Linked DNA regions of Homo sapiens. The protein of the gene in region 4 interacts with the protein of the main gene of each other region in a biochemical or structural test. Each region holds a gene or a part of one and is shown on either strand. Other genes may lie near its edges.

Region 1 (7,027 bases), on a different chromosome or scaffold from region 4:
GGGCTGCAGGCTCAGAACCTCTGAGCCTTCCTGAAATCCTGGGATCTGGAAAGGTGGCTGAGATCCCAGTCACTGGTTTTGGTTAGTAGGGTTGAAATGTGGTAGGCCTGGCAGTTCCCACAGGCAGGTCTGAGGCCATGAGCTGCTCTGGAGGAGTTCTCCCTCCCAACCATGCTCATTCCCTTCTCTCTCTTCAATCTAGACTAGTTTCCTCGGTGACCTCATCCACTTTCACAGTTCAGACTCCTTAGAGATGATGCCCAAACGTAAATTCCAGGCCTGAAAGATTATCTGAGCTTCAGTTCCCAAAGCCTAGTAGACGTTTTTATCTGGATGTTCTACCCATTGCTCACAAGGAATCTCAAAGAGAACACTGACATCCCATCCTAAAGCATTTCCTGTGCCACCTTTCTGCGGCTGCTCACAGCACCAGCCTTTAAAATGTGCAGGCTTTAGTCGCCTTTGATTCTTTCCTGTCATGCACCCCCTTCATTCACACTTTACTCACCTAAGCCCTGTTAATCATCTCTTTGCTATCGCCCTTATGTATCTGTCCTTTTCACTTTCCAAAATCACTATCATCACTTAGTTCCGAACTTCATTATTTCCTATCTGGGATATTTTACTAACTTCTTCACTTGTCTTTCTGACTCTCCCATCCTACCGTCTGTGCGCAAGGACTGTCAGCTCGCTAGTCTTAAGTCACTGCTCTGATGAGGTTAAATGTCACGTCTGTGCTCAAAGTCAGCCTCTGGGTTAAATGTCACATCGGTGCTCAAAGTCAGCCTCTGGCTGTGGAATAAATGGCACATGTTTTCAGCCTGCCATTCAGGGCCCTCTGTTGCTTTTTATTTTCATCTCTTTGTGCCTTTGGCCCAGTAGATTATCTGATATTTTGTGAATAAGACTGATGTTCTCTGTCTTTCAAGTCTTTGCTCATAACAATCACTGTCACTATAGAGCACTTTCCTAACGCGTCTCAGGCACCATCCCAGGTCCTTTCCCTGAGGCATCAGAGTAACGCTAGAGTAAGGACCATAAGGAAGTGAATATCCCAGTCCTGTTTGAGAAGGGAGAAAGCTGGTGCTCTGAGGGGTTTCGATGACTTGCCCAAGGGGCAGAGGCAGGACGCAAAACTGAGGCCGCCTGTCCACTGTCCTCTTCCATGACCCTGTGATTTTCTCTCCCTGGACCCTCCTGTCTCCATTTCTACAAGCAAAGCCCGAACTGACCCAGTATTGTACCCACTTCATGCACGCCTTCCAGGTGCCTGCCCCCTCCCAGACACAGTGAGCCCCCACAGGAAGGTAGACACCTTCCTCATCCCTTCTCCACTCTTACTAAAGAATGGTTTGGTCACCTTTGCTCTGCTGAGACCTGCCCAGAGGGGTTAAGTATCTTCAACAGGACAGGGAAGAGTAGCTTATTGCTAAGCTGTCCCCAACAGGACTGGACCTGGGCCTGGGATTAACAAGAAATAAGTGTTCCACGAGTGTCTGCATAGGCGCTTGGGGCCTGACTCCTACCTGGCCTCTGAGGGCTTCGTGGGCCCCAGAGAGGCAGGGGGGCTTCCTAGCCCTACTCCACCCCATCATCAGTCTGTGGCCCTCTCTGCCTTAGCTCTCTAGGGACTGACACAGGCTTCCTGGCCCAGCTCTAGAGCCCCATCTGCTGCAAAAACCTTAAGTGCCAGAAGCCACTTGCTGCAGATCTGGCGACTTTGTGCCTTCCCCCAATCCTGCACAGGCCTGGTGAGCTTACCTGGATCCATTCATGTGGTCATACTCCCGCTTGACGTTGACCCTCACTGGCTGATTGATCCACTCCTGCTGTGGTGGGAGGGGGTTGATCTTGTGGGGCTGCCCGTAGTCAGGACTCCCCGAGGCAGTCATGTCGGCCTTGGGGAGATGGGCTGCCGCTCCGTACGCTGAGTCAAAGAGGGACTGGTCGTCGCTCACCACCGACAGAGCCTCCTGCAGGGCCAGAGAAGAGACAGAAAGCCCAGTGTCACTCTTCACCCAAGCAAGTGACACTCTTGCTTTGAGCTGGCAAGGTGGCCCAGGGCTGCCCCAGGACAGCTTGTCTGGAAGTTCCTGTTTGACTCACACTCCAGGGGGCAGGTTTGCCCTTATGCAAACCAGATGGGTGTTTGCAGGTTACCTGGGTGAGGAGGGACTTTGGGCAGTGGAGTGGGGATGGAGGAATCATGAAAGTGGGTTTGTTTATTGGTTCTGTAGTCTGGGACCCCCAAAAAGGAGGGTGGGGATAGGGAGGCCAAGAATAGTGGTGACTTGGCATGGAATATAGTATTGTGGTGGTGTGTGAATGCTAGATTTTTCCAGGCATAAGCAGAAATGCCTCTTACGAGCTGAGTGGAGTCATCAGCAATGAAGGGGAGATGAGATCCAGCATTTATTTTCCAGGCAAGGCCAGTGAGATCCACCCAGAGAGGCTAGGTGTGCTGCTCAAGGTCACACAAGGGAAGGGTGGTGCCCATGGCTGTGGCCAGGCCAATTTCAGTTTCCTTATTTGTAACAGGGATAAAAATAGTTTTAGCACAGAGTCGATAGGTGGATTAAATGAGAAGATCTGGTGTGGGGGTGTAGCTTGTAAGAAATGCTCAGTGGTTTGCTGAGGGCCCTCTAGGAGGTGCTGGTGCATCCTGTAGATCTCAATGTTGATGACTCAGCCAGCCAAAGGACGAAAGAGGAACCTCAGACACGTGAAGTGCCAGTCAGGGCAAGACCCTCCAAAAGAGGTTGTTGGGTCCTCCCACTCATATTATCCCATCACTGACTTGGGTGTGACTTTGGGAGATCATGGATTAAGAAAAGAAGCCTTGGCCAGGCATGGTGGCTCATGCCTGTAATCCCAGCATTTTGGGAGCCTGAGGTGGGAGAATCTATTGAGTCCAGGAGTTCTAAACTAGCCTGGGCAATGTGGCAAAACTGTGTTTCTACAAAAACAGAAAGAGAGAAAGAAAGAAAGAAAGAAAGAAAGAAAGAAAGAAAGAAAGAAAGAAAGAAAGAAAGAAAGAAAGAAAAAATTAGCTAGATATGGTGGCATGTGCCCAGCTACTTGGGAGGCTGAGGTGGGAGGATCACTTGAGCCCCGGAAGTAGAGGCTGCAGTGAGCCGTGATCGTGCCATTGCATTCAGCCTGGGCGACAGTCTCGAAACAACAACAACAACGACAACTAAAAAACTTTGCACATTCCGGAGATCTGCTACCAATCAAAACATGAGGGTAAGAGTCTCCCATTATTCCATGTCTCATCGAATCACAGGCATCCAAGGTCAGGGACCAGGGCATAGTGTTCACTACAGTCACATAATTACACCAAAGTAAGTCTTCAGAGAAGATGGTAGTCATCTATAATTGATCTATAATCTATATAATCAATAATTATATAATCTATAATTGTGATAATAGTTGTGATAATACATGCAAAGTACTTAGAAGTCTCTGGCACATAGTGAGTCACACTCAGAACATGTTAGGTATCATGATTATTAGCATTCAAACAAAGATTCTCTTAGGCCACCTGTTAGGGGCTGCCTTGTGTCCTCACAAAATTCATATGCTGAAGCCCTTACCCGCAGTACTCAGAATGTGATTGTATTTGGAGATAGGACCTTTAAGGAGGTAAGGTGAAATGAGGCTGATAGGGTGGGTTCTAATCCAATATGACTGGTGTTCTTATAAGAAGAGGGAATTTGGACACACAGAGAGCCCCCAGGGGAGTGTGTGCACAGAGGGGCTGCCATGTGAGGACACAGCAGTCATTGGCAAGCCAAGGAGAGAGGCCTCTGAGGAAAACCAACCCTGCTGGCACCCTGATCTTGGACTTCCAGTCTCCAGAACTCTGAGCAAATAAATTTCTTTTGCTTAAGCCACTCAGCCCTGGTATGTTGTTATGGAAACCCTAGCAAATGGATACACCACCTTTACTTGAAAATGTAGTGATAGGTGAACAGCACTTGTTAAAGCTGGGATTTGTCTACCTTCCTTGTGTAATTCACATTCCTGAATTGAATGTCTTCTTCAGAATGAATGCTCTTCATATGCCTGTAGAATTACAACCTGCTCCATGGGCTGTCTCTTGTCTCCCAGGGCCATTCTCCACCCCAGCGGACAGACAGCCATAATTCAAAAAGGGAGGCTCTTCTATGGCTGTTTTCAGCTGGGATCAGGGAAAAAATACTGGAATATACTCTAGGAGTCCTGCTTTTGCACCAGAAGGCTTTGGATGGTGTAGGTGCCTCCAGACATACATTCAAAGCAGAGTTGCCCACACAATATTAAAACACTTACATCCCCCAACCGAGGGGATCTCCCTAGCCCTAACATCTGCTGGGATCCTTCTTCATTTTCTACCAGATGCCCTTGAGTCATGCTCAGAGTAAAGCTGTGCTTGTCAGAACCATTTGTTTCTTGGTTATTATATCCACTCTTGATTTCAGCTAGAGTTCAGCTTTGGCTTCATATCCTAAATTTTGAACTGTTATCTGGGCTCAAGGAATTATGGTTCTGAGCTGAAAAGGGTGACATTGCAACCTTTCAGACAGCTGTCCCTGACTCCATGAAATTCCTTGAGCTCCGCACTGGAAGCAGAGGACACATTACCACCTATGACCCCTAAGTGTCTTTTGGTGATAAGAGTGAAGAACATGTACCACAGTCCTGCTACAAAAACAGATGACATTTCAGGAATCAGGTAGCATCTTCTGCTGTAGAGAATGGCTTACGTTCTTAGTTTATCATTCATGAACCTTGGAGTTTCCAGTAAAATAATTTCTTTCCCTTCCCTCTTCTAGGTTGGGGGAGAAGATGACAGAATATCAGAGGCAAAGAAGCCCGGGAGGCAGGGCTGGGCACAGTGATGCTCCATAGATGGGCAAAAAGTTCCTCCCATCATTATCCTAAGGAGGGTGGACCAGGCAACAGGGAACACAGGATTGTCCTGGCCAAGGGGACATGCAGACGGCAAAATCAAGACTCACAGCAAAGAGAATACACAGAGAACACAAAGCCAGCGGTTCTGGAGGCAGACCCAGGAGAGACTTCTTAAGGAAGTGAGTGGTACACAGCTAGAAAAAAACAAGTGATGAGATAGAGTGTAGGTGTAGAAAGGGCACAAAACCAGTTTGAACTCATTTTGGAATAGAAGTTTCCTTAAGAATGTAGTTCACAATCAAGGAAACTCCAATCAAGTGGCAACATTGTAGGAGGAGAGCGTCCCGGTTCACCGGGAATGCCTCACACTTCTGTCCAGTCTGGGCATTTCTCTCTGAGACTCTTCCCTCCCTGACGACCCACTGACATGCTCTTCCCTCATTCAGTACACCTTGTGCGCTCCCTGGCTGGATCCAGCTCCCTTGCAAGTTGTGAATACTGCTGTCATCCTGCCACAATCTGCTCAAAAACCTCAGAGAGCTCCCTAGAGATGGACCACAGCAAATCTCTTCTCAGCCACTTGTCTTCCAAAGGTCATCTTTGTCCCACCTGCCACACTTACATTGCACAACTTCCTCTTGCTGCAACTTGTGTCCAATTCTAACTATTCTCACTGCTCCACTAGACAAGCCCTACTCAGGTATGCTTCTGTGCCTTAATTTTGTGGTTCCTTTTGCTGCAAGTAACCTTTCTTTACTCTTTCACCCTGATGCACAATTATCTTTGCCATTGTGTAAGGTAAGTGAGATCTTCCTGAGAGCTTCCTGTTTCCATGAAACCTTTCTGATGATGACCTATGACTCCTTTGAGCTGTTAACAGCTCGTGAGAATACTGCTTTGGGTATGCATATGTGCACACACACACACACACACACACACACACACACACACACACATCCCCCTTCTATTTGCAATCATGGCTAGACAAAAAGCTTTTTTTCCATTACAATGTAGAGAAAAGAAGAGATAGATCATGGGGGCTGTGAAGAGAGAGAAGATGAAGGAGAAGAGTTCCCTGTCTGGCTCACTGGGCTGAATTTGAAAAGCCAATATGGGCAAGGGAAGGGAGGTGAGGGCCCCTAAGTGGAATAAAAGATTTGGGGAGATAAGGCCCCAGACAAGCTGATTTGAGACCCAAGTGAAAGAGCAGAGTTGGGGAGGAGAGCATTCTTGTGGCTTCTGCAAATAAACGGCACCCCTTTTTGCAGTTCAACAGCTTTAGGAGCACCCCAAGACCATGCCCTTGGCAAGTACACTGTCATTTTTATGATGCCACTGGTAGTAGGGAGCCCTCTCCAAATTGCTCTGGGAAGACCAGAGTAGGGACGGAGGAGGCAAACAAGAGGAATGAGTCTGGGCAACTTGATGTGGCTGCTGCTGTCTGCAGGCGAGGAGCTGCTGAGCTGGCAGAAATTTCACTTATTTGCAGCTTGTTACACATGAGGAGCTGTTGCTACTTCATGTGTGTCTTATAAAGCTCTTTACTTAAACTCTTAAAACTTTTTAAAGTTTAAACTTAAAACTCTTCCTTGTACTTCAAGCTCTTTACAGAAATGAGCATGTTGCTAGCGTTCAAGAACTTTCCACGGATAAATCATCAATAAGTACTTAACTGAGGTGATAGGCTGGGTGTAGGAAGAACACCAGCATGCAAATTCACCAGCCATCCTCAGAGGGACTACATTCCTTCCGTTTCTCATGACTTTGCTTCTCCTATTGTTGCTGATTATTTTATTCAAGGGAAGAGAAGTTAGTTATTATTTAAAAGACTTGTGGGGTCCATGAGGCTTTAGACCATGCTATGTAAAATTGACTTCCAAGTGAGAAAGACAGGAGGCGTGGGCTCCTAGCCCTATGTGGGGCTCAGCTCTGGGGTTCCTTCTTGACCCAACAATTGTCTCTGTAAAAGGAACCCCTGGGCTGGCTTAGTCATTGGCTTCTGAGAAGCACTTTCCTTTGCAGAATGCTGGAAAGGCTGGGTCTGTGGGTCCAGAGCCACTGAGTCCTAGATCCAGAGGGTGGCATAGGGTCCCTTGTTCCAGGCAGGGAAGTGCCCCAGCACATTTGTACC
Region 2 (7,027 bases), on a different chromosome or scaffold from region 4:
CTAAAAATACAAAAATTAGTCGGGTGTGGTGGCACGCACCTGTGATCCCAGCTACTCGAGAAGCTGAGGCAGGAGAATCAACTGAACCCGGGAGGCGGAGGTTGTAGTGAGCCGTGATCACGCCACTGCACTCCAGCCTGGGCGACAGAGTGAGACTCTGTCTCAAAAAAAAAAAAACAAAAAACAACAGTGGTCCTACTCTGGCCCAAAGGGGCACAGGAGGCTTGAGCCTCACATGTCCCCACCACCCGCTCCTTGGTGGCCCCTGGGGCCCTCCAGGGCTCTGTGGTAATCCACACACTCACATTACCCTCAGCTGAGTCTCACAGCCCTGCAAACCTAGTGTTCTGTTCTCCCACTTAAAGATGAACAGGCAGGACGCAGTGGCTCACCCCTCTAATCCCAGCACTTGGGAAGCTGAGGTTGTGGGATCACTTGAACACAGGAGTTCAAGACCAGCCTGGGCGACATGGCGAGACCCCCATCTCTACAAAATAAAAAAATTAGCTGGGTGTAGTGGCAAGTGCCTCCAAGCCCAGCTACTTAGGAGGCTGAAGTGGGAGAATCACTTGAGCCTAGGAGTTCAAGACTGCAGCAAGCTATGATTGCACCACTGCACTCCAGCCTGGGTGACAGAACGAGACCCTGTCTCAAAATAATAATAAGAACAGATGAACAAACCAAAGCCCAGAGATGTGACATCACTCGGCCAGCCCTGTTCCGTTTGATCCTAACTCCTGCTCCTGCCTGCAACAGTGGCTTCACCACCTTCCTTCCCTACCCTCAGAAGTCCTGCTCTTATTTCAGGCAAACATGAAACTTCTACCCCAAGCAAAACAGCTGCAGGAGTGAAGACCAGAGACGCACCACCAGGAACCCCAGACTCCCACAGGGTGGGGATACATAAGATGATGGGCAAGACACCCCAGGGCACAGACAGCTCCCCTCCCTGGCACCGCCCTCAACCTCCAGCTGTCCTGGCCCCATAGCCTCAATTACTCCAGAGCCCACCTGGATGGCGGCGGGAGGATCGCATGGGGCCAGAGGCCCGGAGGGCAGCGGCAGGCAGGTGTAATTTCATCGCGGGGCTCACAGTATGAGTCACCAGAAACAGAAGATGAAATTCCAGCTCTGAGGGCGGAGATGAGCAGCTCCCCCGGCTTGGGGTCAGCTCTTGATGTGGGGGGTGGGTAGTGATGGGGTGCAGGCCACAGGCCCCCCGCCAGCCAGATGGTGCCTTTGTGAAAATGAGAAAGAGGAACCACCTTCTTCTGGGGGGTCCCGAGCTGATGCAGGGCCGGCCAAGCCGGTTTGCTAGATTTCCCTAGAGAGGAGAGTGGCTAGAGGTATGTGGCATATCCACACCATGGAACACTACTCAGGGACCAGAAGGGACCAGCTACCCGTGTACCCAGCAATGCCGTAAATGCATTATGCTGTGTGAAGCCAGATTCAGAGGCTGTGGACTGTAGGATTCCATTTATGTGACATTGTACAAATGGAAAACCATATACAGAAGACAGATCAGTGGTTGCTGGGGTCAGGACAAGAGACAAGGATGAACAAACGGGCTTCAAAAACTTTTAGGGGTTACAGGATTGTTCTAACTCCTGGGGTCAAGCAATCCTCCTGCCTTAGCCTCCCAAGTAGCTGGGGCTACAGGCACACATCACCACACCCGGCTAATTTTTTTTTTAAGAGACGGGGTCTTGCTATGTTGCCCAGGCTGGTCTCAAATTCTTGGCCTCAAGTGATCCTCCCGCCGCAGCCTCCTGAGTAGCTGGGGCTACAGGCATGAGCCACCTCGCCTGGCTAATTTTTGTACTTCTTGTAGAGATGGAGGTTTCACTATGTTGTCTAGGCTAGTCTCAAACTCCTGGCCTCAAGCCATCCTCCCGCCTCAGCCTCCCAAAGCGCTGTTCTATGTCTTGACGGGGGTTGGACGACATAAGGGTGTGAGCCAGGCAAGTTCCTGGTATAGCATAGCCTTCACTCCTCAACGATATTTTTAATAAAATATAAAGTGGGGCCGGACACAGTGGCTCACGCCTGTAATCCCAGCACTCCGGGAAGTCAAGGTGGACAGATCACTTGAGATCAGGAGTTCAAAACCAGCCTGGCTAAGATGGCAAAACCCCATCTCTACTAAAAATACAAAAATTGGCTGGGCGAGGTGGCATGCACCCATAATCCCAGCTACTCAGGAGGCTGAGGCAAGAGAATTGCTTGAACCCGGGAGGCAGAGGTTGCAGCGAGCCGAGATCGCGCCACTGCACTCCAGCCTGGGTGACAGAGTGAGACTCCATCTTAAATAAATAAATAAAATAAAATATAAAGTGGGCCCTTCTCATGTGCCAGCCGGGGGCTGGGGACCAGGACCTAATGAGACTCCCTCAGGCCTGACGCCTCTGCAAGGTCCTCACTGGCTGGCGTAACAACAGATGGATAGACGAAAAGATACGGACTTGCTTTGATGGTGGTTCTGCCAGTAGCCAGAAAATGCACCTTGAGACCCTGCTAGACCCCAGCCAGCAAAGAGGCCTACCCTCGGCCAACCATCTAAGACACAAACAGCCTGGAGGGTCTCCCCTCTGTCACAGGGAACAGGAGGGGAAAGGGCTAAGCTGCCCCCTGCTTACCTACCCTCCCCAACCATGCAGCCTCTTCTGCATCCTCAAGTGCCCAGGACCGCAAGCCCTCAAGCCAGGCCCTCCCACCCTGTCTCCACCACAGACCTGCCCCCGGGGGTCCCACACACCCATGCTGTGGCATCCCCACGGGGTCACACCAAGTCCCTTGGACTACAGCACCACACTGGGACCCAGGCAGGTTGGGGAGAGCCATCTCCCTTTTACATCCAAGAAAACTGCCCAGGCGGGCGGAAGGTGGACGTGGACCCCATGACCCCGGCCCCTTACTTTCCCCCCATTTCCCCCACTCCAGAGGCTGCAGCTCAGGTGCTGGGAACCTGCCTCAGGTGGCAGCATGGCAAAGGTGCAGGAATTCCCAGCAGCCTCCGTGCTGTGGGGTCAGCCCCTCAAGTCCACAACCGCCCCCGTGGCGGGGTCTCCCAGCTTTGAAAGGTAGCCATTGCAGACACTTTCCCAGCACTCAGGCCTTGCCAATCCTACATGAAAATCTTACTTGGTGTATAATAGGGTGTTTCCAGCAATTTCCCACCCCCTCCTCCCAGCATCTCTAAATATACGGACCACATTGGCCAGAAATCCCTGAAGACAAGGACTTCCCAAACTGGGGATCCCTGGGCACCCCTCAGGCCACCTAGACTACACCCTCCATGCCACCCAGGCCAGTAGGAGATCTAGACCCTCGAGCCACAGGCTGGAGGAGGCCCGACCAAGGACATTAGAAGGATACTGCCTGTAATCCCAGCACTTTGGGAAGCTGAGGTGGGAGGATCGCTTGAGGCCAGGAGCTTGAGACCAGCCTGGGCAACATCGCAAGACCCCATCTCTAAAAAAAAAAAATTTTTTTTTAATTAGCTAGGTGCAGAGGCTGAGGTGGGAGGATCACATTGAGCCCAGGAGTTGGAGGTTGCAGTGAGGTAGGATCACGCCACTGCACTCCAGCCTGGGAAACAGAGTGAGACACTGTCTCAAAAAATAGAATAAAATAAAAATGAAAAAGGACCCTGCTGGCTGGGTACAGTGGCTCACTTCTGTAATTCCAGCACTTTGAGATCACTTGAACTCAGGAACTGGGCAACATGGCGAAACCCCATCTCCACCAAAAATACAAAAAATTAGCCGGGCACGGTGGCGTGTGCCTGTGGTCCCACCTACTTGGGAGACTGAGCCAGAAGGATCGCTTGAGCCGGGGAGGGAGAAGCTGCAGTGAGCCGAGATTGTGCCACTGCACTCCAGCCTGGGTGACAGAGTGAGACCTCATTTCAATACAAATTAAAAAAAAAAAAGCCAAGATTCAGTGAATCAGCTCCACTCGATTCAAACTCGCTCCAGATCATCCCCGGGGCCTCCACTGAGCCCTGATCCCAACTCCAGGGTCAGCCACACACACCTCTGGCCCCTCCCCAAACCCCATCCATCTCACCGCCCCAGAGGCAGCAGTTGTAGGGTTGGCAGATAAAATGCAAGACCTCCAGTTCAGTCTGAACTACAGATCAACAACAGGTAACTTTTAGCTAGAAGTTCATCCCAAATATTGCATTAGTCCTTGCTTGTCTGAAATCCAATTTTAGCTGGGCATCCTTATTTTTATTTGCTAAATCTGGCAACCTGAAGCAGGTGGTCCTGAAAGAGGGTGACAGGTGGGCACACAAATAGCTCTGGGTCAGCCAGGCCCCAGCTCAGGGGCGAGAGAGTTCTGTTCACCGCCTGAGACACTCCCTAAGACCGTGTAAGATAAAGTACATCCTCACCCATTTCACCTATCTTATTCAGGACACCTATCTTATCTTTTTTTTTTTGAGACAGAGTTTCACTCTTGTCGCCCAGGCTGGAGTGCAATGGTACGATCTCAGCTCACGGCAACCTTCACCTCTTAGGTTCAAGCAATTCTCTTGCCTCAGCCTCCCGAGCAGTTGGGATTACAGGCGCCCGCCACTACGCCTGGCTAATTTTTGTATTTTTAGTAGAGATGGGGTTTCACCGTGTTGGCCAGGCTAGTCAAACTCCTGACCTCAGGTGATCCGCCCGCCTCGGTCTCCCGAAGTGCAAAGTGCTGGGGATTACAGGCATGAGCCACCGCACCCGGCCCTAACTTATCTTAAATGGGCAAATTTCCAGGGCATGAACCCAGGTTCCTACAGACCTGGCCCCTTTCTGCACGACCCTCCATACTCATGAAGCCACAAACCTAGGTGCAGATTGGCCCAGAGAGAAGGGAATGGGACCGAGAATGGATCAGTTCCACAGGACGAGTGGAGAGAGAGCTACCAAAATAGGGTGGGTGAAGAAGTGATGATGAGGCCGGGCCTGGGGGCTCACACCTGTAATCCCAGCACTTTGGGAGGCCAAGGAGGGCCAATCACTTGAGGTCAGGGGTTCATTCAAGACCAGCCTGGCGAACATGGTGAAACCCCGTCTCTACTAAAAATACAAAAATTAGCCAGGTGTGGTGGTGTACATCTGTAATCCCAGCTACTCGGGAGGCTGAGGCACGAGAATCACTTGAACCCGGGAGGTGGAAGTTGCAGTGAGTTGGGATCGTGCCACTGCACTCCAGCGTGGGCAACAAAGCAAGACTCCATCTCAAAAAAAAAAAAAAGAAAGGGGGGTGATGGACCAGGGGGCTTTCCTGAAAAGCTTTCTGCCTCCAAAACCCACATTACCACACCCCCTACAGGCCAAAGCCCCTCTGCCACACCTGGAGATACCTGACTGAGAACTTCCAAAGTAGGCCAAGAAAGTGACAGGGTCCTGCCTCCCTTCCGGAGTATGGAGCCTGGGTAGAAAGCACATGTTTCTATGAGATGGGGCTGAGGGGATTCCGAGAGGCCAGGCCCCTCCTGCCGTATCTGGAGCCCCCAACATCTACACCTTGGAGACTGTTACCCCCTCACCAGCAATCATCTGTCACAACACACTGTCTTCTGGCCAGGTTCACGCATCTCCTTCTCCCCCAGAAACCATCCTTCCCACCACTCCACCTCTGCTATGAATTCCTTCAGGAAATTCCCTTCCAGTCACACTAAGGGTCCCTGTCCTAGCGGCCCCATATTATCCCGGAAGCCCCCCAATCAAAACTGAACTCAGGACCGGGCGCAGTGTCTCATGCCTGCAATCCCAGCACTTTGGGAGGCAGAGGCGGGCAGATCACTTGAGGTCAGGAGTTCTAGACCAGACTGGCCAACATGATGAAACCCCATCTCTACTAAAAATACAAAAATTAGCCGGGCGTGGTAGAGCATGCCTGTAATCCCGGCTACTTGAGGCAGGAGAATCGCTTGAACCCAGGAGGCAGAGGTTGCAGTGAGCCGAGATGGCGCCACTGCATGCCAGCCTGGGCGACAAAGTGAGACTCCCTCTCAAAAAAAAAAAAAAAAAAACAAAAACGTAACTCAGCATGGATTCCAAGCCCTGGGTCCTGCTCTGCTCCTCTGTTTATAAATTGGCCCTGCAGGTCTTCTTCCATGGGTGTCCCCTGAAGCCTCTGCAGGCCCCATGGAGCTGGGCATACACCCCTGGCTTGTCCCAAAGAACCTGGCTGTGACCCTGGCTGCCACGCATCTGAGAGAGAGATACTTACAAACGGCGAGAGTCAGAGAACTGAGAGATACAGAGAGGATGACATTGGGGAGCAAAGCCCCCAGGGTTAAGGTTGGGAGAAGACACAGGCTGGGGTAGTGGGGAGAGAGGGGGCCCCAGGAAGTTCAGGGAGAGACCCTGGGACTCCTACCAGGGTGGGGAACTTGCCCCAGAGATGAGCATTTAAGAAAAATAGGAGAGAGTCTGCTTAGCCATTTAGGTCAAGGCTCAAGAGCAGGATTTCATTCATTCATTCATTCAAACATGTAGCCATTTAACAAGTATTTGAGGAGCAAGCCTCCATCCCTTCCTGTCCCTAGTGCAATTGGGGAGAGAGATGTAAACATCTGAGTAAGATCAATGTTGGGACAAAGGAAGGAAAGGATGTTGGCTAGGCGCGGTGGTTCACTCCTGTCATCCCAGCACTTTGAGAGGCCAAGGTGGGAGGACTCCTCATGCCCAGGAGTTCGAAACCAGCCTGGGCAACATAGCAAGACCCCATCTCTACAAACAATAAAAAATTAACCAGGTGTAGTGGCCCTTGTCTGCGGTCCCAGCTACTTGTGAGGCTGGGGTGGGAGGGTGGCTTGAGTCCAGGAGTTCGAGGCTGCAGTGAGCTGTGATCACACTACTGCACCCCAGCCTGGGCACAGAGCAAGACTGTCTCAAAAAAAGAAAAAAAGAAAAAAAAGAGAGGACATCATGGGGATATAAAGGTGGAACCATGGCCAGCCCTGAGGACGAGGAAGTCTTCAGCCCAAAGATACCACAGCCAAGCCAAGTCCTGAAGGAGAGGAAAA
Region 3 (7,027 bases), on a different chromosome or scaffold from region 4:
TGCCTGTCTTGTGGTTTATAATAAGCATACTGTTTTATAGGTCATTAGCTAAGGATAAAAGACTTGCTGGGAATTTTTGATAGGGCTAGTCTAGTCTATTCTGTTTTAACATCAAATTTTCAGAAAAGTACATTTGTTATCCTTTTCTTTTATACATATTTACAGCTCAATTCTCTGAATTCAGAAGCCTACAATGTAATAAGACAGGAAGTAGTATGAAAGTATACAGACCCATAAATATGTGATATAAATGTATATATATTTATTTGTGCACACCTGGGATATGCACCTGGAATATGCACCTGGAATACACCCCTGGATTTACACAGTTTTATCTTCCCTTCTTATTCAGTTAAAGTCCTAGATCAGAACTGACCCACAGAAGAGGGAGCTTCTCTAGTTCGCCTCTGCGGACAGAATAATGGAGACATGGCTATGGTTTCTAACCCTGGCAAGTTGTTTAGGTTTCCTCTTAGTTTCTGTTTTCTTTAGCTTTAAAAAGGGTGGGGGGTAATTAAGCATATCCTGTATTCTTACAAAGATGCTTGTCCAGTTAAGACAGTAGTTGGAAAAACAACTGTAAAATTACGTATACATATACTATTTCTCTTTATTAAAATCACCCCATTCTTTCCTTCAAATCCTGCTAAAACTTCTGTTGAGTAGGAAAGTTCAATTCTAGTTTGGTGAAACTTTCCTAGAGAGCAGGGGTCAGCATTTTCTATAAAAAGCCACAATGTAGATAATTTTAGGCCTTGGGGGCCCTGCAGACTCTGTTGCTACTCTTCAAATCTGCTATTGCAGCAAGGGAGCCGCCCTGGACAACATGTCAACTAATGGGTGTGGCTGTGTTCTGATAAAACTTTATTTATCCACATTGAAATCTGAATTTTATATAATTTTCATGTGTCATGAAATATTCTTCTTTTCATTTTTTTTCAACTATTTAAAAATGTAAAATCCATTCTTACTTTATAGACCATACAGGCAGCAGACCGAGTTGGGCTGATGGGTGGACAGACTCCTGTTGTAGAGAAAAAGCACTGGGTTTGTCAACCATAGCCATTTCGAACCTTTCTTTATTTAAGACTCTTTGGTTTGCTTTGTATTTGCATCTGATTTTGATTCTTCTCCCTTAGGCCAGGATTCATACCCTTGTTGTTTTTACTTTTTGTTAAGGACAGCTTTGTACAGATTGTACAGTAAACAAGATTATATGTCCAAGGATATATGTTCTGGGCTTTTGTTTTCTTTTGTGGTAATGTAATTGTGGGACTGAAAAGAACCTCGACACTTAATCAGATGTGACCTTTTGCAAGACTATCCTAGTTATTTAAGAAAGCTAGCTTTCTCTGTTTTACCGCTTTTTTCAGGAAATATGATTGCATAACTGACATTCTCTATGGATTGCCATTTTTAAAACAGTATGAAAAGAATAGTGGTGTGGTGATAGATAACAATTGATTAAAGGGTAATCCCTTTAGTTTTCTTTAAACTTGCTGAGCAAAAGAACAAATTATCTCTCTAAACATAAGTGATAAATCTGAACATTTTGTTGAATTATTAAAAATATATATATATAAAGCCATTTGAGTGTAGAAGCATGTCATAGCTACTCAGGAGGCTGAAGTGGGAAGATCACTTGAGCCCAGGAGTTCAAGGCTGTAGTGTGCCATGATTGCACTTGTGAATAGCCACTGCACTCCAGCCTGGGCAACATAGCAAGACCCTTATCTCTAAAAATATAATAAATAAATAAATAAACTAAAAGGATTAAGAAAATCTACACTCGCTTCTACTTGAATTCTGGTTTACAAATAGTAGAGAGAATAGAAGAATAGTGGATATCTAGATAGGGATATTTCTTCCCCAGTAAATTCTGTTGTCAGCCAAGATGGTAGTATCTATAGCTACCATCTTAAACTGACATGTGATGTGCTCCAGGATCTCTTTAGAATGAAACTGATGGAAAATAACCTGTCAGTTTTACCCAGGAAGTGGTAAAGCTGAAGTGTGACAGTTAGGAGGTGATCCATTCCGATTCTCTTGCTATCCATTCAAGATCTGAATGAAGAAAGGAAACAGGTGAAATTACAGGAGTGCTAACAATGAATAAAAGTTACAAAGCCTTTGGGTGTTTGCCCTTTAACTCAGATAGCTAGCATAATTTATATGAAATATAAGTTATATCAATAAATAATATTTTATGATAAAGTATTCTAGCTTTATTTTGCTGTCTATACTTCAGGTGTTCAGCAGTACTCAACTTTTGCTATCTGAATTTCTTAGTGTGGTTAGTCATCTGGAAAGTCAAAAACATGCAAACATTATCAGGAAATCATAAAGATGTTTCTGTCCTCTTTAATGCTACATATATGTTCTCATTTGCATACTTCTTTGGCTATTTAAAAATTAATGAAAGCAAAGTTATTGACTAAAAAGCTATGAATTAGGGTGGCTGAAGACAGAAAATTATATTTATATGGCTTTTTAAGTTGTCAAAGGGCTATAGAGCCTCATAATAATGCTATGAGGGAGTTTGGACAGGGTTAGTATCTTTCTCCAGCATCTTCTCAGGGAGGGAAGTAAACATAGAGAGGCTATGTCACACACCACCTGTCCACAGTGGGGAGTGACATTGCTGGTGCAGTGATGATGCTAGAATGCCAACCACATTCTAGATCAGGGGTTCTCAAAGTGTGATCAGAGGGCCCTGGTTGTATCTAAGACCCTTGCAGGAGTTCTGCCAGATCTGGACTATTTCAGAATAACACTAAGATATTGTTTTCCTTTTTCACTCTCATTTCACCAGTAAACAATAGAGTTTTCCGAAGGCTACATGTCGTGTTGAGATGTCATTGTTCTGACATCCTGTGAGATATCTACTAATGTATAATCGTGTGTTTTCAAAAATTCTCAATTTTAATTTCTAATATGCTAAATATTGATAGATATAATCCATGTAAACACAATAAATTTAAAGAGTGTAAAAGGATCCTAAGACAAAAATGTTTGAGAATTGCTGTTTTAGATATTGTGCTAAGGCCGTTAGAAACATGATCTCATTTAATGCAGAAAACACACATATGAGGCAAGCTCTACTGTCATTCCCATTCAATATGCTAGGAGATGAGGGCCTGGAGAAGTTAATGAATTGCAGAAGGTACACGGGTTGTTAAGTTGCAAAGATAGAATCTGAACCCAGGTTTCAAGTTAAGAACTCCACTGTCTGTGTTGTCAGGCACATTGTCTTTCAAAGAAGCACCAGGAAATGCCTGGATTTGGACTAATTTCTCAGAAGAGAAACTTCTTCCCATAACCTAGGCTATCTCCAAGGGAATGTAAATATGAAGATTATCCTTATAGACAGTGTAAAATAGAGATTATTTTCTAGTAGTTTGTGGGCCGAGGCTTGTACTCTGTGAAACACAAAACAGTTGAGCATCGGATCTTTAAACCTGGAGGATTTTACTTAAAAAAGAAGTTTGGATTGCCAGCTACCCTTGAAAAATTTGGAGATTTTGAGCTAGGCTGGACTCATATTCCCACATGGCCACAATCAGCTGCAGTTTTTATCTGCTGTTCCTGCTAGATAGATGTGTGTCCTCTGGTTTGCCACAGACCTCACTACTCCTTATTACCTTCCTCGTAGCTCATGTTCCTCATTTATGTTGCCTGTTTGAGGTATTTGGGTTAGAAACAGCTGGAGATGTTCTGTCTACTGCATAGTGTTTATAGGCCATCTGCTTTCAACTTACGTGAAAAATAAAAAGTTATTAACAGTAAAAGAGCCAAATATATCCCATTCTGCTTACCCAAACCTGGATGTAATAAAGACCTCACTGACAGTGCCACATAGAAAGCAAATTGCTTCTTTCTTTACTAAAGCATAATATTCTGATTCATTAAAGAATTAGGATCTGCCAGTGAATTAACATTTATTTTTAAACATGAATCTCTTTTCTTTTTAAGTGTAATAGTGAAATAAGCACATTCTACTCATTGCCCTCATTTTATGTTTATTTTAGTAATGTCTACTGTCATCATTATCATGTCTGGACCCTTTATAAAAAAAAAATCTCTGTGAACCTCTGTGTACATATTAAATCAGTCATTTGAAACAATATGAGATTGTCAACCTAACGGACTGCATTATCCTGGGCATTTAGACAACATTATTGAACTTCAAATTTTTAGCTTAACATAACATTTGTCAGCAGTAGATATTAAGCATTTATCATAATTTATAAGTATATATTTGCTTGCCTCTTTTCTTTTTTTGCCTCACCCCAGAATATAAGTTTCATAAAGCTGGAAACTATATCTGTTTGTTCACAATGTATATTCTATGCTTTGTACAGTGTTTAGCACTTAACAGTCAATAATGAATGAATAAAGGAATAAATATGTAAATATATCAGTGTTGTATATGATAACTCATTCTTCTGTAATCTTAAGAATAATATGTAAAAATTCTCAGCAAAAATGCTCATGCTTTTTTCATTTGAGAATTAAATAGGGGAGATATTTATTTCTTATTATCCACATAAATATATATCCACTTCTGTGTGTGCTATGTTCTATTTAGGATAGTGCCCGGTCTTCCTGATGTGAGGTCAATAGGCAGGTTACACATCTATGTAGCTAAGAATAAGGTGCATATTAAGACCAGGATGCAAGAAGAGGCTGTTGAACTTGAACATTCAGCACAGAGTCTCTTCTCTTCTATACTAAAAGATAGTCATCCTGCAGTCGGAAGTGGCAGTTATTCGGCCATTGGAAAAGTCTCATGTAATAGTAGCTTTTAGATGATGTCTCCTCCAAAGGGGCATTCTGCTATTAACCTATTGCTGAAAGAGAAATACCATTGTCTATTAATACTACTGGAACTAAAGATGAATAGTGAATTGGCCTTGATCTGACAGTGAGTTTGACTTTGATAGCTCGTCACTTAAAAAGGTTCTTTTATATTTATGAAAAAAAGCATGACGTCAAGCCAGGGGGAAAAATTGATATCAACATTTAAGACCAAACTCGTAGGGCTTCCAAAAAAAAGGCCCTTATGTGAACGTTTTTTTTTACATGCATAACTAATTAGCTTAGGTTATTATAAGCAGGGCTTCTGTGATAAAGTTTCCGGTGGTGTCTCGGGATACCTTGTTTATAGTACCTTCTCTTTGCCAGTCCATCTTCAAATTGGAATTATAGAAAGTAGAGGGAGGGATAGTCTACCGTCTCTCACTGGATTGGTGCCACCTAAAACATTGTTATGCTGGAAATGCTAGAATATAATCACTATCAGGTGAGATTTATTCTGACTCATATTCAGTCTTTGAAATATAATGCAATAAATTGATTTAATCCACTTTTTGTTATTGTAATAGACATACTGTTTTCAATAAGTATAAATCTGCTCTTTTAATGCTGTTTATTATTTGATGCCATAAGAAGTAATTCAATGTAGTTTTGAACAAAGTAAATATTAGTAGGATTCTTTTTTTTTTTTTTTTTTGGCCTAGTGTGTGGCTAAACTATCTTCATCAGCTCCTGTTCATTGCTCATAAGATTAAATTGTCTTTATCAAGAAAAAAGTGACTTAAAATTGAATAATGTTGTTTTTTGGGGAAAAGTATTTCTCGTTCTGAATTAATGTCTGTAGGAAAGGAGAAAAAACATCCTGTTGGCTTGTTAATAGTCATGTCTTTTAAAACACATACGTGTAAGTGTTATGCATTTGAAAGAAACTACTTAATGTAGAATTGCTTTTTATGTTGAGTTTTTTCTTAATTACAATGTTGAATAATCATGTCCAAATGAAAAGTGGGAGAATTAATCCACAACTAGTTGATTTAATCATTGGAAGATTTATATTTATTTTCTACAGCCATTTTACACAGTTGGTTCTTAAGGAGGTGTGTGTGTGTGTGTGTGTGTGTGTGTGTGTGTGTGTGTTTTAAAAAGAAAGCTGTTCTGTTCGCCAAGGAAAGTGAAACAAACAATTATGCCACTTCTACATTGTTGTTTGATCTTAATAAACCCTTTCATGTGTGTTGGGGAAATTTTTGCCCTAAGATAATTTCAAACTTTTAATTATTAGATATGAGAAGAAGGATACAAGGTTTGAAAGAGACGTATAGTTAATTAGCAGGGAAATAAAATAGGGCAAAGTATTACACCAAATCCTACTAGTTAGACTTTAAACTTCAGTAATATCAAAATCCGTTAGCACAGTGCCTGGTACATAACAAAGGCTTAATAATTTATTCTGTTGGTGGCCTGGTCAGTTTCATGTTTGTGCCTGAAGGAAGAGCCGTCTGAAACTCACAAATAACAGCGCTGTTTTCTTTTCCCTCCATGGCTATGTTCAGGTGCAGACCCACCTCGAAAACCCCACCAAGTACCACATACAGCAAGCCCAACGGCAGCAGGTAAAGCAGTACCTTTCTACCACTTTAGCAAATAAACATGCCAACCAAGTCCTGAGCTTGCCATGTCCAAACCAGCCTGGCGATCATGTCATGCCACCGGTGCCGGGGAGCAGCGCACCCAACAGCCCCATGGCTATGCTTACGCTTAACTCCAACTGTGAAAAAGAGGTAATTCATGTCTCCTCTCCTCTCCTGTTTTCTTATGCTAAATAACTTGTCTGTTGAATATGATTCCCACACTTAACTGTGGACTCTAGTTTGTCCTTGTGGCCACATTTACCAGCCTTTGTCCCCGATTCACCATCGTGGCTGTGGCATTCCAGCCTGTTGTCTCCATCGCTGGGTTATTGGGTGTAGAGCACATGACGGGAGACCTGGCCCTCTCCAAGTGAAATGTGGAGGCGAGGACACTTTTGCCACTTGCTTCTTCTTCCTTAGCTGAGTGCTCTCTTCTCTTCCATGCCTTTCAGTTTATGAAGCAGTGAGAATGCAGAGAGAGGAGAAGGGGAGGTGGAAAAGGAAAAGCAAAAATAGAAGAGGTGTGGGACATGCTGTTTAGAAGTTCCGCTTGTTGTGAATGTCTGGAATATTATTTTTAT
Region 4 (7,027 bases):
CGAAACAGAAAAAAAGGCAGAAACAACAGAATACATATACAGAAACAGAATACAGTTGACCTTTGAATAACAATAACATATAGTTGAATATTGAATAACAATAACATATCCAATAACAAAAACCTGTGTTAGTCAAAGGTCAACTGTATCTTGTCAACTGGTTTGAACTGTGCAGGTCCACTTATACGCATATTTTTTTTTCAACCAAATGCAGATCAAAAATATGGTATTTGCAGGACGTGAAACCCACATATACAGAGGGCCAACTTTTCCTATACATGGGTTCTGCAGGGCCAACTTCAGGACTTGAGTACACATGATTTTCCTGTTGGGAGGGTGGATCCTAGAACCAATCCCCCAGGTACACCAAGGGGCAACTGTATATATACTACACAGGTTCCATTTATATAAAGTTCAAAAACAGGCAATACTAATCTGTTAAAGTTAGGATAGTAGGTCGCTTTTGGAAGAATGAGGTGAGGTTAGCCACTGGGGAGGGGAATATTTAGAGTGCTGGTAATGTTCTCTTTCTTGACCTGCACGATTATTATTTTGAGAAAATTCATCCAGCTATAATTTCATTATCTGTGTACTTCCTATGTGTATGCTATATATCAAAAGAAGTTTGGTTTTTTATTATAAAAAATATTATCTTACACAGAGATGGGGTCTCACCATGTTGCCCAGGCTGGTCTTGAACTCCTGGCTCAAGTGATGCTCCCACCATGGCCTCCCAAAGTGATGGGATTACAGCCTTGAGCCACCTCACCAGGCAAGAAGTTTGTTTATGCTAGCAGCAGCATCATCTTGTTTTAGTTACTGTAACTTTTTAACAATTTCTGTAAAAACAGACTAACGGCCCAGAGTCCAGAACCAAAGCACAGATGAGTGATGGCATCCAAACCAGTGAAGAAAAAAATTTGCATGAAAGGTGATGGAACAATTTATTATTCTTTGAGGAAAAACCATGCATCTTGGTCACCACTTCACACTGTATACAAAATCAACTCCAGGTGGATTAAAACCTTAAATGAGAAAAGGTAAAAAAAAAACAAAAACAAAAAACAAAAAAACTACGTCTTATACTTTTACAATAATGGAAAATATCTTCGAGAACTCTGTTGAAAAATTTCTTCAACAAGATTCAAAAGCACTATCCATAAAGAAAAGCCTGATAAATGCAATCACATAAAAATTAAGAACTTCTACTCATCAAAAAACGCATAAGGCTGGATGCAGTTGCTCATGCCTATAATCCCAGCACTTTGGGAGACCAAGGTGGGCAGATCACCTGAGGTCAGGAGTTCGAGACCAGCTTGACCAACATGGTGAAACCCCGTCTCTATTAAAAATACAAATATTAGCCAGGCATGGTGGCGGGTACCTGTAATCCCAGCTACTCAGAAGTCTGAGACAGGAGAATCTCTTGAACCTTGGGGGTGGAGGGTGCAGTAAACTGAGATCACGCCACTGCACTCCAGCCAGGGCTACAGAGTGAGACTCCATCTCAAAAAATAAAAATAAAAATGATTTAAAAGTGAGCCCAATTGAAAGGAGAAATTTGCACCACATGCATCCAACTGTGAAACTATTAAAAATCAGTATGAAATAATTTTTTTAAAAAACTAGTACAAACATGGGCAAAAGACATGAATAGGAATGTGAGAAAAGGGAAGAATGGCTAATCAGTATAGTAAAAGATGCTCAAACTCATTAGCAAAGCAAATGAAAACTAAAAGGTGGTATTTTATACTCGTGGGTAAAAACTTTTTTTTTTGAAACAGGGTCTCACTCTGTTGCCCAAGCTGGCGTGCAATGGCATGATCACAGCTCACTTCCTAGCTTCAGGTGATCCTCCCATCTCAGCCTGCCAAGTAGCTGGGACTACAGGTGTGGGCCACTATGCCCAGCTAATTTTGTTTTGTTTTGGTAGAGATGGGGTTTCACCATTTTACCCAGGCTGGTCTCAAACTCCTGGTCTCAAGCCATCCACCCACCATGGCCTCCCAAAGTGCTAGGATTACAGGCGTGAGCTACCATGCCCAACCGATAAAACCTTTTGAAGTGTGACAAAAGTAGATGTTAGCAAGAAAGCTGAGTAATGAAAACTTCTGCATTGCTGGAGAGAACGAAGACTGACACCACCTTTTTTGGAAGATAATCTGACATTATCCAATATTGGTGAATATGCACACATTCTTCTTAAATACCAGCAATTCTATTCCTAGAATCTCTACAGTGAAACATACAAATATTCACACTAAGTGAGATCAACAAAGATTACAATATCAGTGCAGGTCAGGGTTTTTCTGCAAGACAAGTTTGGTGAAACTTTACAGTTTTTTTCTCTTCATTTTCAAACATTTGGATTTAAGAAATATGGATGGCCAGACACAGTAGCTCACACCTGTGATCCCAGCACTTTGGGAGGCCAAGGCGGGTGGATCACCTGAAGTCAGGAGTTCAAGACCAGCCTGGCCAACATGGTGAAAACTAATAATACAAAAAAATTAGCCGGGCATGGTGCACACCTGTAATCCCGGCTACTCGGGAGGCTGAGGCAGTAAAATTGCTTGAACCTGGGAGGAGGAGGTTGCGGTGAGTCAAGATCGCGCCACTGCACTCCAGCCTGGGCAAGAAGAGCAAAACTCCGTCTCAAAAAATAAATAAATAAATAAATAAATTTTACATATGTATATATGTTAAAAGTATAAAGACAGACCAGGAATGATGAATCCAAAATTCAGTACAATGGCTACTGTCATTGGTGAAGGTGGACATGGTTGCAGTGGATGTGATCAGGAAAGTGCATCCTGCTAAAGTTACACTAATGAATTAGTAAACTGGTTGGTAATTATATGTATGTTTGTTTACATACGCCTTACCTGTTATAATCTTTTGTACTTATCAAATAACTTAAATATTTAAAATACAAAAATTAGTATGGAATACCTAAATACAAACCCACTGTTAGAGTCACCAATTCAGGGAAGTGTCTCAAGAACTCTAGAGAAATTAGCATCAGAGAAATTCAAGGTATTTCCCCATAAATCAAGGACAGGTTGCTATTTAAAAAGAAAGAAAAATGAAAGATGATAGAAGAACTCTTATAAATTAAAGATAACTACTGAAATAAATTTTATAGAAAAGTTCAAAGACAAAATCAAAGAAACCTTTCAGAATGTAAACAAATCCCGTAGATCGTAGACTACAATTGTAGATTACAATCTTCTACAGGAGAATAACCATCAGATCTGCAATGGACCTCTGATTAGCACACCAAGTATTTTAGATTCCCACAGCAAAGTTTTCAAAATTCTGAGGAATTTATAATTCCACATGTAAACTTTCAATCAGGAACAAAGACAAGCCATTTTCAACATTCGAGAACTCAGAAAGTTTATCACCAGCATATCCTTCCAGAAACAACTATTGAAGGCTGTATTCCTGTAAAATAAAAAAGGTATCTAAAAGAGAAAAACATGGGATCCAAATAACAATAGATCTAACCCAGGAGAACAATGTGAAGTAATCCCAGGATGACAGCTGGGTAACAGGTCTACTAAGCTTCCCAAATTAGAAAAGGCAGGCCAAGACTCCGGAAAGTCTACCAAGACAAGCTGAATGGCTACAACATGAGAACCCATTATAATATTAAATTTTAAAAATAACTTCAATGAGCTTTCCTCATTCAACCAGGACTTTGTTATATTTCTTTTTTTTTTTTTTTTCCTGAGACGAAGCCTTGCTTTGTCACCCAGCCTGGAGTGCAATGACATGATCTTGGCTCACTGCAACCTCCACCTCCCGGGTTCAAGCAATTCTCCTGCCTCAGCCTCCCGAGTAGCTGGGATTACAGGTGCCCACCACCACGTCGGGCTAATTTTTGCATTTTTAGTAGAGACGGGGTTTCACCATGTTAGCCAGGCTGGTCTCTAACTCCTGACCTGAGGCGATCCGCCTGCCTGGGCCTCTCAAAGTGCTGGGCTTACAGACGTGAGCCACTGTGCCCGGCTGACTTTGTTATATTTCCTTTTTAAGGATCACAGGTTTAACAGAAGTGAAGTTTCTCTATGGCTCCACAGTACTTGGTTCTATAGTAACTAATACTCATGTCAACATACATATTTAAAAGAGTGGCTATTAGTACTCAATTTCTAGATTTTCCTGCAGAAGCACAGAAAACTTTAGAAGAGTTATAAAACATTATATAAATGCAATAAATCTTGCCAATGTAACAGTACTAACCAAAAACAAAGGCTGGGGCCGGGCTCAGCGGCTCATGCCTGTAATCCCACCACTTTGGGAGGCCAAGGGAGGGGGAGTGGATCACCGGAGGTCAGGAGTTCAAGACCAGCCTGACCAACATGGTGAAACCCTGTCTCTATTACAAATACAAAAATTAGCCAGGCATGGTTGCAGGTGCCTGTAATCCCAGCTAATCGCGAGGCTGAGGCAGGAGAATCGCTTGAACCCAGGAGGCGGAGGTTGCAGTGAGCCAAGATGGCGCCATTGCTCTCCAGCCTGGGCAACAAGAGCAAAATCCTGTCTCAAAAAAAAAAGGAAAAAAGAAAACAAAGGCTAGGAAGGGAGGAGGGAAAAACAAAGGCAAGGTTTGGCTTTTAAATCCCAAAAGGAAAGGGATCGGTGTTATATCTTTTTCTGAAAGACCAGGAAGTGAGGAAATATAGTTGTCTCTCAGTATCCGTAGGGGGCTGGTACCAGGGTCCCCTGCAGATACCAAAATCCAAGAATGCTCAAGTCTCTTACATGAAATGGCATAGTATTTGCATATAAGCTATACACATCCTCCTACGTACTTTACATCATTTCTAGTTTACAATACCTAATATATGGCAAATGCTATGAAATGGTTGTTATACTATACTGTTTAGGAAATACTGACAAGGAAAAAAGTCTGTACATGTTCAGTACAGATGTAACCAACCTTTTTTCCTGAATATTTTTGATCCAAGGTTGGTTGAAACCAAAGATAAGTCATTCACAGACATGAAGGGCCAAATATACTGTCTAAAAGTGATAGGTCAATAAACAGAAATTTATAATAAAAAGTTAAAAATAACAGCAAAATTAGGAACCAAAATGTAACTGATAGAAATCAAAGTCTAGGACAGGTGGAAAATGACCTAAATTTCTTATCTAGCAAAAAGTTAAGAAATATTTTTTTTGAGTTGAAAAAATATAGAGAGAAAGGCATGGTATATTTTTAGACTTTTGGAACAACAATAAAACCCTAAAAACAAACAAACAAAAATGGTTAAAAGCATAATGGGAGTGGGATTTAATGGAAAAGGGAAGACTTTCACTATTTTGAATTTTTTCAGTACTGTCTGCACAAATATTGCTTTCATTTAAAAAATATGAGAAATGGAAATGAGAGAATAAAAAATGTGACATCAGGTGATCCACCCGCCCCAGGCTCCCAAAATGCTGAGATTACAGCCTTGAGCCACTGCGCCCAGCCTATTTCACTTTAAGTTAAATATATTTTGTTTCGAACGTGCTTTCATAGACATGAGCTCAGGTGAAGCCTTGGAAATTTTAGTTGCATCCCATAATAGCTTTGAATCATATGGAAGATTCTGTTATATCTATCATAGCTATTAGTCTGTATCCCTGCCCAATAAATGGGGAGAGGAGCGTGATGAGGACCTCTAACCTCAAATCCCCCATTAACTTCCCATTCTCCTGCTGCATCCTAACAGCACTTGAAGTTATCAGGATGGTGACTCCTGGTAGGTGTAAGGAAACCAAACACTTAAGCCTTCTAGACAGAAGACCTTCTGTTACAGAATTACTTAGGCTTCTTAGCATGAAAGACCCAAATCTGATCTTCGAATTATGACACAACAAATTTACCCAGTTTGGTAAATGTTCTGGTTTACCCAGTATCTATTGATAAAGTTATCATCGCTGGCTCTCTCAGGCCAAATGCACAACCAGATTCTCACAGGCACATTCTCTCTCATTCTGAGACACACACAGAATAAATTCTCAATGCATGAAAAGAAGGGGATGAAGAATACAGAAGGGAGATCCTTAAAAAAAAAAAAAAAGTCACTACAATAGATCCCCCTCCTCCCCATTGAGTGATGAGAAGTAGGGAAAGTAGATTAACCAGGTTAAAGTGTAGCAGGGACCTTTTTGTGAATGACTGCCACCAGCAGACCACAATATTGGAAATATGCAACTGGAAGGGTAAAGAAAAAGCTGCTCTGGTTAAAGAAGAGGTAAGTGATTCCAGAAACTCAACTCCTGCTCTCCTCCATCCCTGTGCTTAGCTCTTCTACAGACTAGTTTGAGACAGGGTCTCCCTCTGTCGCTCAGGCTGGAGTGCAGTGTCAAGATCAGAGCTAGCTGTAACCCAGAAATCCTGGCTTCAAGCGATCCTCTTGCCTCTCAAAGCGCTGGAATTACAGGTGTGAGCTACCAAGCCCTGCCCTCCAGACCATTTTTGGAGGAGGAAGCAAGGCAGCAGTGACAGAAGTTCAGGCCATCAAATCTTATGATCTTGTCCCACATTAATTCACAACTAGTTAATTCAAAATCTGTTCATTCACAAACTAATCACTCCTTCAGCTCCTAACAACACAGATGCCATAAATAAGCAACTGGTAAATTGAGTAATTTCTTCTCTGGCACCTTGAAAGCTTCTAATATATAACACATTATTGTAACCATCTTTGAGCACACAGGCCACATTTTCCCTTTTCAGAGAACTTCCCCACTTCCTTTCCTTCAATCCATCAGGATAATCTGCTGATCAGGTTTGTGTGCTTTGACTCTAAGCCCCCGGCTATGGATGATTAGAACAGAAGTAGAGACCTAAACTCAGCCAATCAGATTCTCTCTCCCAGAAGAACTGGAAGAGAGGTGGGCTGGTATTCTGGTCACCCGGACTGAAAGGCAACAAGGTATAGAGCTGCCATATTCTGCTATGACCAGCCAAGATCTCTGGTACTGGCTCACGCAGCAGTCTCCAAAACTGAAATAGTCAGGCGACCCC

The links.
Region 1: the proteins of PIAS2 (region 4) and FLI1 form a complex in vitro, tested with the Homo sapiens proteins (one study listed by BioGRID).
Region 2: the proteins of PIAS2 (region 4) and GTF2IRD1 form a complex in vitro, tested with the Homo sapiens proteins (one study listed by BioGRID).
Region 3: the proteins of PIAS2 (region 4) and MITF form a complex in vitro, tested with the Homo sapiens proteins (one study listed by BioGRID).

Annotation. Positions count from the first base shown.
Region 1 is NC_000011.10:128,753,061-128,760,087, reverse strand, and holds part of FLI1 (Friend leukemia integration 1 transcription factor), read right to left. Parts: intron 1,974-7,027; coding exon 1,762-1,973; intron 1-1,761. UniProt on the Homo sapiens protein: Sequence-specific transcriptional activator. Recognizes the DNA sequence 5'-C[CA]GGAAGT-3'.
Region 2 is NC_000007.14:74,456,879-74,463,905, reverse strand, and holds part of GTF2IRD1 (general transcription factor II-I repeat domain-containing protein 1), read right to left. Parts: intron 1-7,027. UniProt on the Homo sapiens protein: May be a transcription regulator involved in cell-cycle progression and skeletal muscle differentiation. May repress GTF2I transcriptional functions, by preventing its nuclear residency, or by inhibiting its transcriptional activation.
Region 3 is NC_000003.12:69,931,454-69,938,480, forward strand, and holds part of MITF (microphthalmia-associated transcription factor), read left to right. Parts: intron 1-5,138; exon of another isoform or gene 5,139-5,269; coding exon of another isoform or gene 5,270-5,302; intron 5,303-6,368; coding exon 6,369-6,596; intron 6,597-6,898; coding exon of another isoform or gene 6,899-6,913; exon of another isoform or gene 6,914-7,027. UniProt on the Homo sapiens protein: Transcription factor that acts as a master regulator of melanocyte survival and differentiation as well as melanosome biogenesis.
Region 4 is NC_000018.10:46,907,500-46,914,526, forward strand, and holds part of PIAS2 (E3 SUMO-protein ligase PIAS2), read right to left. Parts: intron 1-7,027. UniProt on the Homo sapiens protein: Functions as an E3-type small ubiquitin-like modifier (SUMO) ligase, stabilizing the interaction between UBE2I and the substrate, and as a SUMO-tethering factor.